Linked DNA regions of Homo sapiens: regions 1 and 3 are each linked to region 2. The links come from fine-mapping of genetic effects on gene expression. A gene starts in region 2. Each other region holds a variant in brackets. All regions are shown on one strand. Distances are from middle to middle.

Region 1 (5,232 bases), 37 kb before region 2:
TGCAACTAGCCCTCCCCCACCTGCCCAACAATTTCCTGTTAAAGAGGTGGCTGGAGCTAAAGGCATAGTCAAGGTTAATGCTCCTTTTTTTCTTTATCCGACCTCTCCCAAATCAGTTTTTAACATCAAATATAAAAACTCAGCCCAGTTCATGGCCCATTTGGCAACAACCCTTAGACGCTTTACTGCCCTAGACCCAGAGGGGCCAGAAGGCTATCTTATTCTCTATGCATTTTATTACCCAATCTGCTGCTGACATTAGAAAAAGCTCCAAAAATTAGATTCTGGCCCTCAAACCCCACAACAGGACTTAATTAACTGCACCTTCAAGGTGTATGATAATAGAGAAGAGTTGCAATTACTTGCCTCTGCTGTGAGAGAAACCCCAGCCATATCTCCAGCACACAAAAACTTCAAAATGCCTAAGCCACAGCAGCCAGGCATCCCTTCAGGACTTCCTCCCCCAGGATCTTGCTTTAAGTGCTGGAAGTCTGGCCACTGGGCCAAGGAATGCCTGCAGCCTGGGATTCCTCCTAAGCTGTGTCCCATCTGTGCGGGACCCCACTGGAAATTGGACTGTCCAACTGGCCCAAGGCTCTGACTGTCTCCTTCCCAGGTCTTCTTGGCTTAGTGGCTGAACACTGACACTGCCAATCACCTCAGAAGCCCCCTGAACTGTCACGGATGCCGAGTTTTGGGTAACTTACAGTGGAGGGTAAGTCTGTCCCCTTCTTAATCAATACAGAGGCTACCAACTCCACACTACCTTCTTTTCAAGGGCCTGTTCCCTTGCCTCCATAACTGTTGTGCGTATTGATGGCCAGGCTTCTAAACATCTTAAAACTCCCCAACTCTGGTGCCAACTTGGACAATATTCTTTAATGTACTCCTTTTTAGTTATCCCCACCTGCCCAGCTCCCTTATTAGGTCAAGACATTTTAACTAAATTGTCTGCTTCCCTGACTATTCCTAGGCTACAGCCACACCTCATTGCTGCCCTTTTCCCCAGTTCAAAACCTCCTTCACATCCTCCCTTGTTATCTCCCCACCTTAATCCACAAGTGTGGGATACCTCTACTCCCTCACTGGCAACTGATCACACACCCATTACTATCCCATTAAACATAATCACCCTTATCATGCCAATATCCCATCCCACAGCACACTTAAAGGATTAAAGCCTGTTATCACTCACCTGTTACAGCATGGCCTTTTAAAGCCTATAAACTCTCCTTACAATTCCCTCATTTTACCTGTCCAAAAACCAGACAAGCCTTACAGGTTAGTTCAGGATCTGTGCCTTATCGACCAAATTGTCTTGCCTATCCACTCCATGGTGCCAAAACCATATACTCTCCTATCCTCAATGCCTCCCTCCACAACTCCTCCATAACCCATTATTCTGTTCTAGATCTCAAATATGCTTTCTTTACTATTCCTTTGCACCTTTCATTCCAGCCTCTCTTCACTTTCACTTGGACTGACCCTGACACCCATCAGCCTCAGCAACTTACCAGGGCTGTACTGCCACAAGGCTTCATGGACAGCCCCCATTACTTCAGTCAAGCCCAAATTTCTTCCTCATCCATTACCTATCTCAGCATAATTCTTCATGAAAACAACGTGCTCCCCCAGCTGATCATGTCCAGCCAATCTCCCAAACCCCAACCCCTTCTACAAAATAACAACTTCTTCCCTTCCTAGGCATGGTTAGGTACTTCCACCTTTGGATACCTAGTTTTACCATCCTGACTAAACCATTATATAAACTCACAAAAGGAAACCTAGCTGACCCCATAGATCCTAAATCCTTTTGCCACTTCCCTTTCCGTTCCTTAAAAACAGCCCTAGAAGCTGCCCCCACACTAGCTCTCTCTAACTCATCCCAACCCTTTTCGTTACACACAGCCAAAGTACAGGACTGTGCGGTCAAAATTCTTACACAAGAGCCAGGACCACACCCTGTAGGCTTTTTGTCCAAACAACCTGACCTTACTGTTTTAGGCTGGCCATCATGTCTCCATGCAGCAGCTGCTGGTGCCCTAATACTTTTAGAGACCCTCAAAATCACAAACTATGCTCAACTCACCCTCTACAGTTCTCATAACTTCCAAAATCTATTTTCTTCCTCATACCTGACACATATACTTTCTGCTCCCTGGCCCCTTCAGCTGTACTCACTCTTTGTTGAGTCCCCGACAGTTACCATTGTTCCTGGCCTGGACTTCAGTCTGGCCTCCCACATTATTCCTGATACCACAACTGTCCCCCATGACTGTATCTCTCTGATCCACCTGACATTCACTCCATTTCCCCGTATTTCCTTCTTTCGTGTTCCTCACCCTGATCACACTTGGTTTATTGATGGCAGTTCCACCAGGCCTAATCTCCACTCACCAGCAAAGGAAGGCTATGCTAGAGTATCTTCCACATCTATCATTGAGGCTACCACTCTGCACCCCTCCACTACCTCTCAGCAAGCTGAACTCATTGCCTTAACTTGAGCCCTCACTCTTGCAAAGGAATTTTGCGTCAATATTTATAGTGACTCTGAATATGCCTTCCATATCCTGCACCACCATGCTGTTATATGGTCTGAAAGAGGTTTCCTCACTATGCAAGGGTCCTCCATCATTAACGCCTCTTTAATAAAAACTCTTCTCAAGGCCACTTTACTTCCAAAGGAAGCTGGAGTCATTCACTGCAAGCACCATCAAAAGGCATCAGATCCCATCATTCAGGGCAATGCTTATGCTGATAAGGTAGCTAAAAAAGCAGCTAGCATTCCAACTTCTATCCCTCACAGCAGCTTTTCTCCTTCTTATCTGGTCACTCCCACCTACTCCCCCACTGAAACTTCCACCTATCAATCTCTTCCCACACAAGGCAAATGGTTCTTGGACCAAGGAAAGTATCTCCTTCCAGCCTCACAGGCCCATTCTATTCTGTCGTCATTTCATAGCTTCTCCCATGTAGGTTACAAGCCACTAGCCTGACTCTTAGAAC[T/C]TCTCATTTCCTTTCCACCATGGAAATCTATCCTTAAGGAAATCACTTCTCAGTGTTCCATCTGCTATTCTACTACTCCTCAGGGATTGTTCAGGCCCCCTCCTTTCCCTACACATCAATCTCAGGGATTTGCCCCCAACCAGGACTGGCAAATTGACTTTACTCATACGCCTTGAGTCAGGAAACTAAAATGCGTCTTGGTCTGGGTAGACACTTTCACTGGATGGGTAGAGGCCTTTCCCACAGGGTCTGAGGAGGCCACCATGGTCATTTCTTCCCTTCTGTCAGACATAATTCCTCGGTTTGGCCTTCCCACCTCTATACAGTCCGATAACAGACCGGCCTTTACTAGTCCAATCACCCAAGCAGTTTCTCAGGCTCTTGGTATTCAGTGGTGCCTGGTTTTACCTCAAACTGCCACCCTTAAGTCTCTGTTTAAGTGGATAGAAGATCTTCATTGACAAAGTACACTCCAATACTTTCACCCTGATGAAGTCCTATTCTTTACTTTTATACTCACTCTTATTCTGGTTCCTATTCTTATGCCACCCTCTACCTCTCCCCAGCTATCTCCACCACACTATCAAACTCACTCTCTCCTAGCCATTTCTAATCCTTCTTTAACAAACAATTGCTGGCTTTGCATTTCTCTTTCCTCCAAAATCACCAAGGCCCTGACTTACTCACTGCTAAAAAAAAGGGGAAGGGGGACTCTGTATATTTTTAAATGAAGAGTGTTGTTTTTATCTAAATCAATCTGGCATGGTATAAAAAAACTCAAGGATAGAGCCAAAAAACTCACCAATCAAGAAAACAGTAACATTGAATCCCCTTGGACACTCTAATTGGACATCCTGGGCACTCCCAATTTCTAGTCATTCAATATCTATTTTTCTCCTTCTTTTCTTCAGACCTTGTGTCTTTCATTTAGTTTCTCAATTCATACAAAACCGCATCCAGGACATTACCAATAATTCTATACAAAAAATCCTCCTTCTAACAACTCCACAATATCACCCCTTACCAGAAAATCTTCCTTCAGCTTAATCTCTCCCACTCTAGGTTCCCACATTGCCCCTAATCCTGCTTGAAGCAGCCCTGAGAAACATCGCCTATTATCTCTCCATGCCACCCCCAAAATTTTTCACCACTCCAACACTTCACTATTTTGTTTTGTTTTTCTTATTAATATAAGAAGACAGGAATGTCAGGCCTCTGAGCACAAGCAAAGCCATTATAGCCCCTGTGACCTGCGTGTATACATCCAGATGGCCTAAAGCAACTGAAGATCCACAAAAGAAGTGAAAACAGCCTTAACTGATGACATTCCATCATTGTGATTTGTTTCTGCCCCACCCTAACTGATCAATGTACTTTGTAATTTCCCCCACCCTTAAGAAGATTCTTTGTAATCTCCCCTACCCTTAAGAAGGTTCTTTGTAATTCTCCTCACCCTTGAGAATGTACTTTGTGAAATCCACCCCCTGCCTGCAAAACATTGCTCCTAACTCCACCGCCTATCCCCAAACCAATAAGAACTAATGATAATCCCACCACCCTTGCTGACTGTCTTTTTGGACTTAGCCTGCTTGCACCCAGGTGAAATAAACAGCCTTGTTGCTCACAAAATATATATATATATGTGTATATATATATATATATGTGTATATATATATACATATACATATATATGTGTATATATATACATATACATATATATGTATATATATACACATATATATATATATACACACACATATATATATACACATATATATATATATGTATACACATACACTGGCTGAATGGATAAAAACACAAGACCCAGTCATATGCTGCTTACCTTTAAAGACACACAGACTGAAAGAGGACAGATAGAAAAAGATACTCCATGCAAAAGGAAACCATATTTGAGCAGGAGTAGCTATACTTATATCAGACAAAACAGACTTCAAGTTAAAAGCTGTAAAGAGCTAAAGAAGGACATTATATAACAGCAAAGGTGTCAATTCAATGAGAGAATATAACTGTTGTAAATATATGGGCACCCAACACTGGAGCACTCACATACAAATAAAGCAAATATTATTAGATCTAAGGGAAGAGACAGGTCCTAATATAATAACAGTTGGGGACTGCAACACCCTACTCTTGTCCCTGGACAGATCATCTAGACAGAAAATCAACAAAGAAACATCAGATTTAAACTGCACCATAGACCTAGTG
Region 2 (5,232 bases):
ACATATATGTATATCATACATATGTTGTAGAACTATTTAAAACACACAACACGGTCATACAATTACCTTGGGCAGGGAGTTGGAAAATAAAGGCAATAGAACACATGCACCTTCAATGCTACTGATAATTTTCCATGATTGGCTAGATCTGGGAACAGTGTGGGAATTAGACAGATTGCAAGAATTGGAGCAGTGACAGGAGAAAAAATGCAGTTTGACCAGTTAGGTCTAAACTCCAAATCACGGGTGTTCATGTTATTATTTACTTTACATACACGTTGTACGTACTCTTAATTATCAAATATTATGTGATAAGATAATTTAAAGAATATTTAAGGACCAGGAAGTGTTTATGACATAATGTTAAAGGAAAAAAAGCAGAACATAGAACTTTGGATGCAGTATATGCATCTGTTTCATTTTAAAACAGGGACATCCTTCATTTGTGGGTATTTGTGTGCAGAGAAAAAAGATTGGATAACATCAAAATATGATGAGTGAACGTCTCTGGATATTGGGATAGCATGTGATTTTTTTCTTTATACTTAATGTTCCAAATATTTCACAAGGGCATAAATATACATGAATTTTACAATCATAAAAATTGTGCTGGGTGTGGTGGCTCATTCCTGTAATACTAGCACTTTGGGAGGCTTAAATGGGAGGGTTGCTTGAGTCCAGGAGTTCAAGAGCAGCCTGGACAAAATAGTGAAACCCTATCTCTACAAAAATAATAATAATTTTAAAAAATAATAAATATATAAAATAAAAAGTCTCTTTTAAAAAAATTTTAAAGTTAGGTAGAGATTAAGCTACTTTTTACTAAAAATTATGTCAATGTTCATGTTTAAATTTCAACTCTATTTTTAACATTCTAAATCTTAAACTAGGTGGTGAATCCAGAAATGTTCATTATGTTATTTTTTATATCTTTATAATATGTGAAGTATTTCATGATACTGTTTTAAAGTTGCTATTAAAAAGTAACTAGGCAGGGTGTGGTGGCTCACGCCTGTAATCCCAGCACTTTGGGAGGTCGAGGTGGGCAGATCACCTGAGGTCGGGAGTTCGAGACCAGCCTGACCAACATGGAGAAACCCCATCTCTACTAAAAATACAAAATTAGCCAGGCATGGTGGTGCATGCCTGTAATCCCAGCTACTTGGGAGGCTGAGGCCAGAGAATTGCTTGAAACTGGGAGGCGGAGGTTGCGGTGAGCCGAGATCGCCCCATTGCACTCCAGCCTGGGCACCGAGAGAGAAAAAAAAAGAAAAGAAAAGAAAAGTAACTACATGGCTGAATTTTTTTTTTTAAGCAAATCTTAAATGAAATGCAAACACCAGGACTGTGAACCTGTAGCTTTGGTCACAGGTAGCAATATGGCCTTACTGGTTGTATAGCACTTACTGAATTTTTCTTGAGAATTCTAAAATTTGAGAGTGATGCCAGATAAAATTGCATCAAGAAATCTGAAAGGAACGATTTATTCTGGCTTCAGGAAATCTGATTTTATATTTCTGTGACATAAGACAGGTTTTCTTTTTTCCAGAATGATCCTCTACTCTGAATAACCATAAAATTTCACTTGTGGAATACATCAAAATTATTTATACATCAAAATTCTCTTAAATATTTTATAGTAATCTTTCTAAAAATCCTTCAGTCTTACTGTACTTGTCTAGAGTTGCAAAAATGTAGTGTTAACATTAATATTAAAAGCACTTTCAATGAAATTTCTAAACAGGAGCCAACCCTCTGAGCTGGTATTTCAAAGCAGTATCTATAAACAGAGCAATTTGTTCCAATTTCAGATGAAATCAAGCTGGGAACCTAGAGAGCTCCCCCGCCCCAGGATCTAGGGAATTGTAGTCAGGTTCTAAGCTTCGGAAAAAACGAGCAGCAGAGTATGGTCTGATAAGCTTCGTGCATTTTATTTTGCTTTTCCTCCTTTATTTGATTTGTTGTCATACAGGAAAGGATTTATGGGTGAGAGATCAAGTGCGGACCAGACATGACTCTAGCCTGGAGCCCGACCTCACCTCTGCTCTGCAGGAACTGCTGGCCTCAGCACGAAAACCCACAACCCTCGAAAGGCCTTAAGGATCCTGGGCGGGGTCATTCTGTCAATTGGTTGTTCCGCTGTCCTAGCGAAGCGATGATTGGTCAGATCTGGATATGGGGTGTGGCTAAGGCTGTTTGCCGGAATAAGAGCAGAGCTAGGGCCAAGAAACGCTAGTCTGGGCGTTTAGGTCAGAACTACCCCGGTAGCCTGACAGCAGGAGCTCGAGAGAAGCATGGCTCAGCGGTGCGTTTGCGTGCTGGCCCTGGTGGCTATGCTGCTCCTAGTTTTCCCTACCGTCTCCAGATCGATGGGCCCGAGGAGCGGGGAGCATCAAAGGGCGTCGCGAATCCCTTCTCAGTTCAGCAAAGAGGAACGCGTCGCGATGAAAGAGGCGCTGAAAGGTGAACCCGGGTCCCCTTCACCCACCTATGCTCATATGTGGGTCCCTCCCTCCCCAGGTCAACCCGTGACTCCCCGCTTCCGCCGCAAAGCATCTGCTACTGCAGCTGGAGCCCCGACACGCACCCCAGCCCGGCCCCAACACCCTTCCCAGCACATCGTGCCCCTGTCTGGGGACGCCACACTTCCCCCATACCTGGCTCCTGGAACTCTGGTGTGCCCTGCCTAACCTGGAAGCTCCAACTTCACCCCTCTTGGCGTGACCACCGTCCATTCTTTCCCCTGCTTGCCTCGAGTATTACACCAGCTTTCATTTGTACATCAATTTTAACCTTTGAAAGTTTGCATGCCTGATAAATTACTGCGGTGTCGTAAAATAAGACAAATGATATTAGTCTTATCTACAAAGGAGAGAAATTGAGGCTTAGGTCAGCTAAATGATCTTCCCCAGGGCCCCACAGCAAAGAGTGGGCAGTGGGTGACAGCATCTAGTGCCTGTCGGACTCGCTGGGATCAGATGGCTCTAAAGAAAGGGAGTGGAGTGTTCCCGGGGTGTGGGATGTTCCTAATTCTCAATCATAATTGAAGAACATGTCTCCTCTAGATCTCTAATCCAGACCAAAAATTCATCCCTGTTCTGAATCTGCATTTTCCAGGAAACAGGAAAGTTTCTGTTGAGTGCTAGATCCTATGGGATGAAATCCTTCTTTACCATTCAGCTTAGCTCCAGTCTTTTCCCTTTCATTAAGTAATGGATTAAGAGAGACTGCCTGCATAAACATATAGAAGCAGATGCAGGGACCAAAAGCTAACCCCAATAGTTGGATATAGATTGTTCATATGCTAGAGTGACAAGCCTGGGAGGCAGAGCAGGGCTTTCCCAAAGCATAAATAATTCTCTAAAAGGCATTAGACAGCCACTCACAGTCTGCACAGAAGAGAACAAAAGCTACATAAGCTAGAATAGGGACCTCATAGCAACACAGCTTGGAACTCTGAGCAGGGGACAGAACACCTGAGATCAGATCCTTGGGTCTGCCCTTGAGTAGGCACTTGAATCTTTCTGAACCTCGGCTTCCCCATCTATCTGGTGGGCTATGCTATTGTAGGGTTGATCCTTAGCAAAACTGATGAAGTTTGTCTTTCAGAGACCCTTCCTGCCTCAGGTGAATTTGTTTGCACTGTGTTCTTGGAGAGCAGTCTAATTCAATATTCTCATGATTCATGCTTTCCCTCCCAGTGGTTTTGTCTTTGATCATGGAACTCTTTAAAACTGTAAAGTCTTAAAGACTCAAAGGGATGAGCCCAGTGAAGGTTCAGGAACTGAGACAACTGAGTAAGGAGGGTGAGATTATTTTAGGACTGAGGAGTTTGTTTGGAGGCTTCTAAATCCACCCCTTCCCAGGCATTATATGCCCAAAAAGCTGGTCTTGGTTGACAGACTAGTGAGACTCTGCATAAGGAATAAGCCTTTACATACAAAAACACACAAGCCTCATTGATGTAGGGACCCAGGACAGTGGGTGCCTTGAGAATGATGAAGCTTGGATTCATCAAAGCAATTGGTGATTTCAGAGGTAGTGAGGCCTTAGGAAGCAATTTATAGTAGCTTCCCTTCAAGACCAGGATCCAAAAATCCACTTCCCTCCAATCTTAGACTGTATTTGCCTTTAAGAACCATATCAGCCTAAACAAACCCAGAAGACATAGGTTTAAATCTATAGTCTGCCTGTTGCTCAGACAGCTCACCTAACCTCTCCAAGCATTTTCCCTCATCTTCGAATTAGAGGAAACAATAGCGCCTACCTCACATTAGTGTTTTGCCCTCTGCAATATGATAATGAAGGCAAAAGAACTTTTTGTGCACAGAGGACTGTAGAAAAAAACAATGACTAATTCATTTTCAATCTTTCATCTCTATTTGACTCTGACAGGTGCCATCCAGATTCCAACAGTGACTTTTAGCTCTGAGAAGTCCAATACTACAGCCCTGGCTGAGTTCGGAAAATACATTCATAAAGGTCAGCTGCAAATCAGGGGCAAGGGGTGGGTGGTAGAAATAGCAATGGAGACACAGTTCTTTTACAAAGTGATAAAGAAGTTTATTTTGCGACTGATCAGAGGACAATCTAATTCCCATAGGCAGAGTAGAGACTGTAGATTTGCTCTTGGAAAAACTAAGCCACCATATGTAGGGCAAAGATTGAGAGTTCATCCAGCCATTGCATTAGAGTACAAACTCTCTCAAATTTTGCCCTACATGTGTGTCATTCAATAAATGTTAAATCATCAAAAAGTAGAACTAGGATTTCCTTCTACTTGTGCAACTGCCCAGAACTATGTTCCATGCTCCTCCCACCCCTACCTCCTTACACACCCAAACACACCGGTACATATACACTCCACGTACTCAGGCCTACCCCAGATTCATTACTAACACATTTCTAGGCCTCTAGGCAGTCAACAACTTTGAGCTATAACATCAGTCTTTTTCCCTCATCCCTACCACCCATTGAGTACAGAGCTGAGGAAGGATGGGTCAGAGGAAAAAAGGATTCTTGGAACTCCTCCCTCCCCTTATGAAAATCTCATGGAGAGTGATGAGATTACCTTCCTAAATCTAATTAAAAACAACCCCTCCAAAGTTGTCAGAGGTGGGAGAAGGTGGCCTAGGAGCAGCAAGCAGCCCCCTCTCTAACACCCTGGGACAAATGGCTCTGGGATTAGCCATGCATGGTGGCGAGCACCTGTAGTCCTAGTTACAGGAGGCT
Region 3 (5,232 bases), 44 kb before region 2:
AAGACCAGCTCGGTCGGGGAGACCCTAACCCAGTGGTGCTAAAGGAATTAAAGACAGACACACAGAAATACAGAGGTGTGAAGTGGGAAATCCGGGGTCTCACAGCCTTCAGAGCTGAGAGCCTCCAACAGAGATTTACCCACGTTATTTATTAACAGCAAGCCAGTCATTAGCATTCTTTCTATACATATTAGATTAATTAAAAGTATCCCTTATGGGAAACGAAGGGATGGGCTGAAATAAAGGGATGGGTTGGGCTAGTTATCTGCAGCAGTAGCACAGCCTTAAGGCACAGATCACTCATGCTATTGTTTGTGGTTTAAGAATGCCTTTAAGTGGTTTTCCACCCTGGGTGGGCCAGGTGTTCCTTGCTCTCATTCTGGTAAACCCACAACCTTCCAGCGTGGGCATTAAGACCATCATGAACATGTCAGTGCTGCAGAGATTTTGTTTATGGCCAGTTTTGGGACCAGTTTATGGCCAGATTTTGGGGGGGGGGGTGCTGTTCCCAATATGTCCCCCTTATTTGATTTGCAAATCGATAAAAGCAAAGGCAGCTTTGACACTGTGAGCTACTTCTCACAGGAGTCAGGATCCACATCTGCACACTATACAAAGACAAACAATACCGATTAAAAGCACAATCATCATTGAAATCACAGAGCTTCCAAGTGTTTTTATCCATTTTAATGGGTTACTAGCTGCTAATCTGTCTGCAGCTCCTTCAAGCACTCCAGTTTCTGTCATTAAGGTCAGGTGTACCTGGGATGCTTTAAATATTTGTTCTTTTAATTTTGTAATATCCAAAGACAAGTTTGTAGAGTGTCTTTCTAGATGCTTTTTTTATTCTTTCCCAAATTTTGATCTTATTAAGAGCTATTAATAGTTTCCACAAATCCTTATGTTTAGCTCCTACAATGAGCCATATCATTTGAGGTTGAGGTGACACTATACTGCCATGGTTCCAGACAATAGGAACTTTTGCCATACTTCTTATCATTTCTGCCATCTGACCACTTTGTTCAGACCATCTGAACTAGTGTGGCCATGGCATGCAGACTGAGAGGTGCAATTTAAGCTAAACATCCCCTTAGGGGACCAATCAATGATCCCATAGGAATCATTGCGTAGCATCTCTGCCTGTTCTGCAATGCAATCTTACTAAACAAGTTGTTCATTATTTCTGGCCAGGTTCTATTTTGTTTACAAATAGGTTTTTGAGGGTGGTATGCCTCAATTATAGGAGCAGATTTATTATGGTAAATACTGAGATCAGAAAGCATGTGTAACTGTGCCATAGAGTGAAATCATCTAGGCATTATTGCCAGACAAGATTGATAAATATGCCCAATAAGTATAATTGTTCTCTGTGTCAGCCCTTGTTGAAGGAATACTCATGGCAATGGTGATCATCACTGTGATAGATCACCAAATTACTCATTGTGATTGGTTGTCCCGCTTTCCTCAGGTTTTCTTCCATCATCTGTGACAGCTTCTTGATTTGTCCCCAGGTGGATGGCTGTGTTCGACGGGTGTTGCTCATGACAGTTGGGGTCCTCCTCAGTGTCAGCCTCGACGTGGCTGCAACCAGGGGGTCCTCAGGATCCTCCTGGAATCTCTTCCTCAGCATCTGGCTCATGATAAGGTTTCAGGTGTCTTGATGGTATCCAAATTGGTTATTGATTTTGGCCTGGAGAAACACAAACATAACCTCTACCCCAAGTTATTATTTTACCTATTTCCCAACTTTTTGTTATCGGATCTCTCCACCAAACCAGTTGTTCTGCTTCTGTCTTTGCAGCCGGTTTCTGTAAATGCTGTTCAGCTGCTGATAACATCTGGCCTTTAGGCAGACTCAAAAAATTTAAAGTTAATAATGCTAGATTCAATTGTATATGGGCTGTCCCATAATCCCTCTTTCTCCCCCTTTGTTGTTTTTGTCTTCAGTTGTTCATCTGTATGAAATCGTAACTGAGCATTTTCAATTAACTGTGTGGAAAGAACCATATATGAAGAATCAGAAATCACATTAACAGGCATATCAAAAGCAGTCAATACCTCAATTACAGCTACAAGCTCCACTTTTTGAGCTGAAGTATAGGGCATCTGGAAAACTTTACTTTTTGAGCCAGAATAAGAAGTTTTACCATTACTAGACCCATCTGTAAAACAATGAAAATGCTTAGCAGGCTGCAGGTTGTTTACTGCAAGAATTGTAAATGCAAACCATTCACAGTCTTGCTCAGCCAAAGGGATAGTAAAGAAACAGTCTTTCAAATCTATGACTATTAAAGGCCAATTTTTTGGAATTATAGCAGGAGAAGGCAATCCTGGCTGTAATGCTCCCATAGGTTGTATAACTGAATTGATGGCTCTTAAGTCAGTTAACATTTTCTATTTACCTGAATTTTTCTTAATTATGAAAACTGGAGAATCCCAAGCAGAAAATGTTGGGGCTATGTGCCCATTTTCTAATTGAACTAATTTCTCTAAAGCCTCCAGTTTCTCTTTACTTAGCAGCCATTGTTCTATCCAAATTGGCTTATCTGTTAACCATTTTAAAGGTATAGGTTCTGGAGGCTTAACAATGGCTGCCATCAAAAATGATATCCTAAGCCTTGGCAGGAATTTTGTCTTTCCACTTGCAGTGGTTCTTTCAAAACTCGCAAATTTTTTCCTAGTCCAATACCAGGAACATACCCCATTATATGCATCATATGTTGACTTTGAGGGCTATATAATTGTTCTGGAATTAGAACTTGTACTCCCCATTGTTGTAATAAATCCCTTCCTCAGAAATTTATGGGTACAGAAGTTATAATTGGTTGAATAGTCCCAGGTTGTCCATCAGGCCCTTCACAATGCAAAATATAGCTACTTTGATATACTTCAGGGACTTTACCAACTCCAACTATTGGAGTTGAATTGAGTGGGTTGAATTGGCCATGCAGACGGCCAGTGCTGTAGAGAAAATGTCCACTCCTGTATCTACCAAACCTTTAAATTTATTTCCCTGAATAGTTATTTCACAGGTAGGATGTGTATCAGTAATTTGATTTACCCAATAAGCTGCTTTGCCTTGTTTATTTGTGCTTC[C/T]AAATCCTCCTGTTCATTTAATTTCACTTTTTCCCATTCCCACATATGACACAATCAGGAGCTGTGCTATGCACTCTCCTGGCTCTGCTTTCCAGGGAACAGAAGTAGATATAACAATTTGAATTTCCCCATTGTAATCTGAATCAATGACTCTTGTATGTATTTGTACCCCTTTTAAATTTAAACTAGAACTGCCTAGAACTAATCCTATTGTCCCTGCTGGCAAGGGACCACAGACTCCTGTTGGGACCTTTTGCAGGGGTTCCCCAGGCAGAAGACTCAGCATAAATCTACTGCAGCATAAATCTAGTGTGGCTCTACCAGCTGTGGTGGGGGACAGGCATTGTACAGGGGTGAGGGAATGACCCGAGCTGGAAATGCCCCAGTTTGGAATGGGGCCCAGGATGGGCCCCTCATGGCTTTTCCTGAAATCAGGTTCCCATCTTTATCAAACTTAGAGTGATTAGCCCAGTGTTTTCCTTTTTTACATTTTGGACATATTTCAGGCTCAGCAGTTTTCTTTTTTCCCCTATCTGGTGGCCCGACTTGCTGATTTTTTTCTACTTTTTTTTTTTTCAGTATGACCATGCTTCCCACAGTTAAAACAAGCTCCAGGAAATGGAGTACTTTCTGTATCCACTCTCAGTCCTGCCATTGCCCGTGCTAGCAGGTGGCCTGATGCAGATTACCTCTGATACCACCACAGGCCTTGATATAATCAACTAAATGTGCTTTCCCTCTGATAGGTCACAGAGCAGCCTGGCAATCAGGATTAGCATTGTTGAAAGCTAATAATTGCAACACTATATCCTGAGCAGCCAAATCTGCAGTCATCTTTTTAAGAGACTCCTGTAACTGAGCTATAAAATCCACATATGATTCTTCTGGTCCCTGTTTTATAGCACTAAAGAAAGGGTATTGTTCTCCACTTGAAGTGATTTTTTTTCCCCAAGCTCTAATGCACGCTCCTCTAAGCTGTTCTATGGCATCATCCTGCATGACCATTTGTGCATCTAAACCAGCCCAACTGCCAACCCCCAAAAGTTGGTCTGCAGTTATATTAATTTGAGGTTGGTCCTGCGTGTTGTGAGAAGCCTGAATGGAAGCTTCATCTGCCCACCAAGTTTTAAATTGTAAGAACTAAGCAGGAGTTAGACAAGCTTGAGTAAGAGCGTCCCAGTCAGTAGGAATCATCTGACTGGAAACAGCAATGTTCTTTAATAGTCCCATTACAAAAGGAGAACCTGGTCCATACTGATTAATAGCTTGTTTAAATTCTTTGAGTAATTTAAAACAAAAAGGCTCAAATGTAGCTACAATATTTCCCTGTTGGTCTGGGCAGTGTAGTCTAACAGGGAACTGCCAAGCCTCTTAATCACCTTCTCATCTAGCTTGCTGAATTCCTGACTGAATAGAACTAAGAGCAGTCGCTCGAGGTGCTGCTTGAACAGTCACTGGGGCAACTAATTTTTGCCCACTGTCCTCTGGAAAAGAAAGATCTGGAGGGTCAGGCCACTCTTTTTCTTCAAAATAATAATGAGGGGGTGCAGAAGGGTAGGGATGAACCTCTCCCTCCTTTGCCACTTTAGCTTTAGCTGGCAAATAAACCTGCTCTATAACCTCTTCTGTTACTTCATTATACTCTCCTTCTTCCTCATCATCAGTGTGAAAAAGTTCCAAGATGGAACGAACCAGACCCCACACTTGTCCCATTGTTACCCTGATGCTTCTGAGCTCCCCTTCTTACTCACCACGGGGTTTGCTTTAAGAGTACTCAGGTGTCCTCCAGCTAGTTCCATGTTCTCCAACCATCACTCTGGTGACCCTTCAACCTGGATTCGAGCCCCCATGATGGAGACCACTTGCTGAGACCAGCTTGGTCGGGGAGACTCTAACCCAGTGGCACTAGAGGAATTAAAGACACAGAAATATAGAGGAGTGAAGTAGGAAATCAAGGGTCTCACAGCCTTCAGAGCTGAGAGCCTCCAACAGAGGTTTACCCATGTATTTATTAACAGCAAGCTAGTCATTAGCATTCTTTCTATAGATATTAGATTAACTAAAATTATTCCTTATGGGAAATGAAGAGATGGGCTGAAATAAAGGGATGGGTTGGACTAGCTATCTGCAGCAGGA

Which allele goes with the higher level. Positions count from the first base shown, and alleles are read on the strand shown. Sizes are in standard deviations (SD) of each study's normalised expression. Not every link is listed here.
In carriers of allele T in region 3, the expression in amygdala of the gene that starts at base 2,235 in region 2 tends to be higher than with C alone (moderate effect, 0.63 SD a copy in GTEx).

The links. PIP is the estimated chance that this variant, and not a neighbour inherited with it, causes the effect. A credible set is the group of variants that fine-mapping cannot tell apart.
Region 1: its variant is the best candidate, but not a certain one, in a credible set for the expression of PM20D1 in visceral fat (GTEx, PIP 0.84).
Region 3: its variant is the best candidate, but not a certain one, in a credible set for the expression of PM20D1 in amygdala (GTEx, PIP 0.57).

The regions. Positions count from the first base shown.
Region 1 is chr1:205,883,976-205,889,207 of GRCh38, reverse strand. The region is part of intron 1 of PM20D1-AS1 (PM20D1 antisense RNA 1); the gene reads right to left. Among named protein-coding and RNA genes, the nearest start is that of PM20D1-AS1, 25 kb to the right of the region's middle. The variant T/C (reference allele first, on the strand shown) is at 3,007.
Region 2 is chr1:205,847,135-205,852,366 of GRCh38, reverse strand. PM20D1 (peptidase M20 domain containing 1) reads left to right here and starts at 2,235. Exons shown (of 13, transcript NM_152491.5): 1 at 2,235-2,463; 2 at 4,396-4,482. The coding sequence starts at 2,295. RefSeq lists an enhancer at 2,012-2,306.
Region 3 is chr1:205,890,925-205,896,156 of GRCh38, reverse strand. It overlaps PM20D1-AS1 (PM20D1 antisense RNA 1), which reads right to left. Exons shown (of 3, transcript NR_046097.1): 2 at 4,848-5,001; 3 at 70-1,989. Among named protein-coding and RNA genes, the nearest start is that of PM20D1-AS1, 31 kb to the right of the region's middle. The variant C/T (reference allele first, on the strand shown) is at 3,097.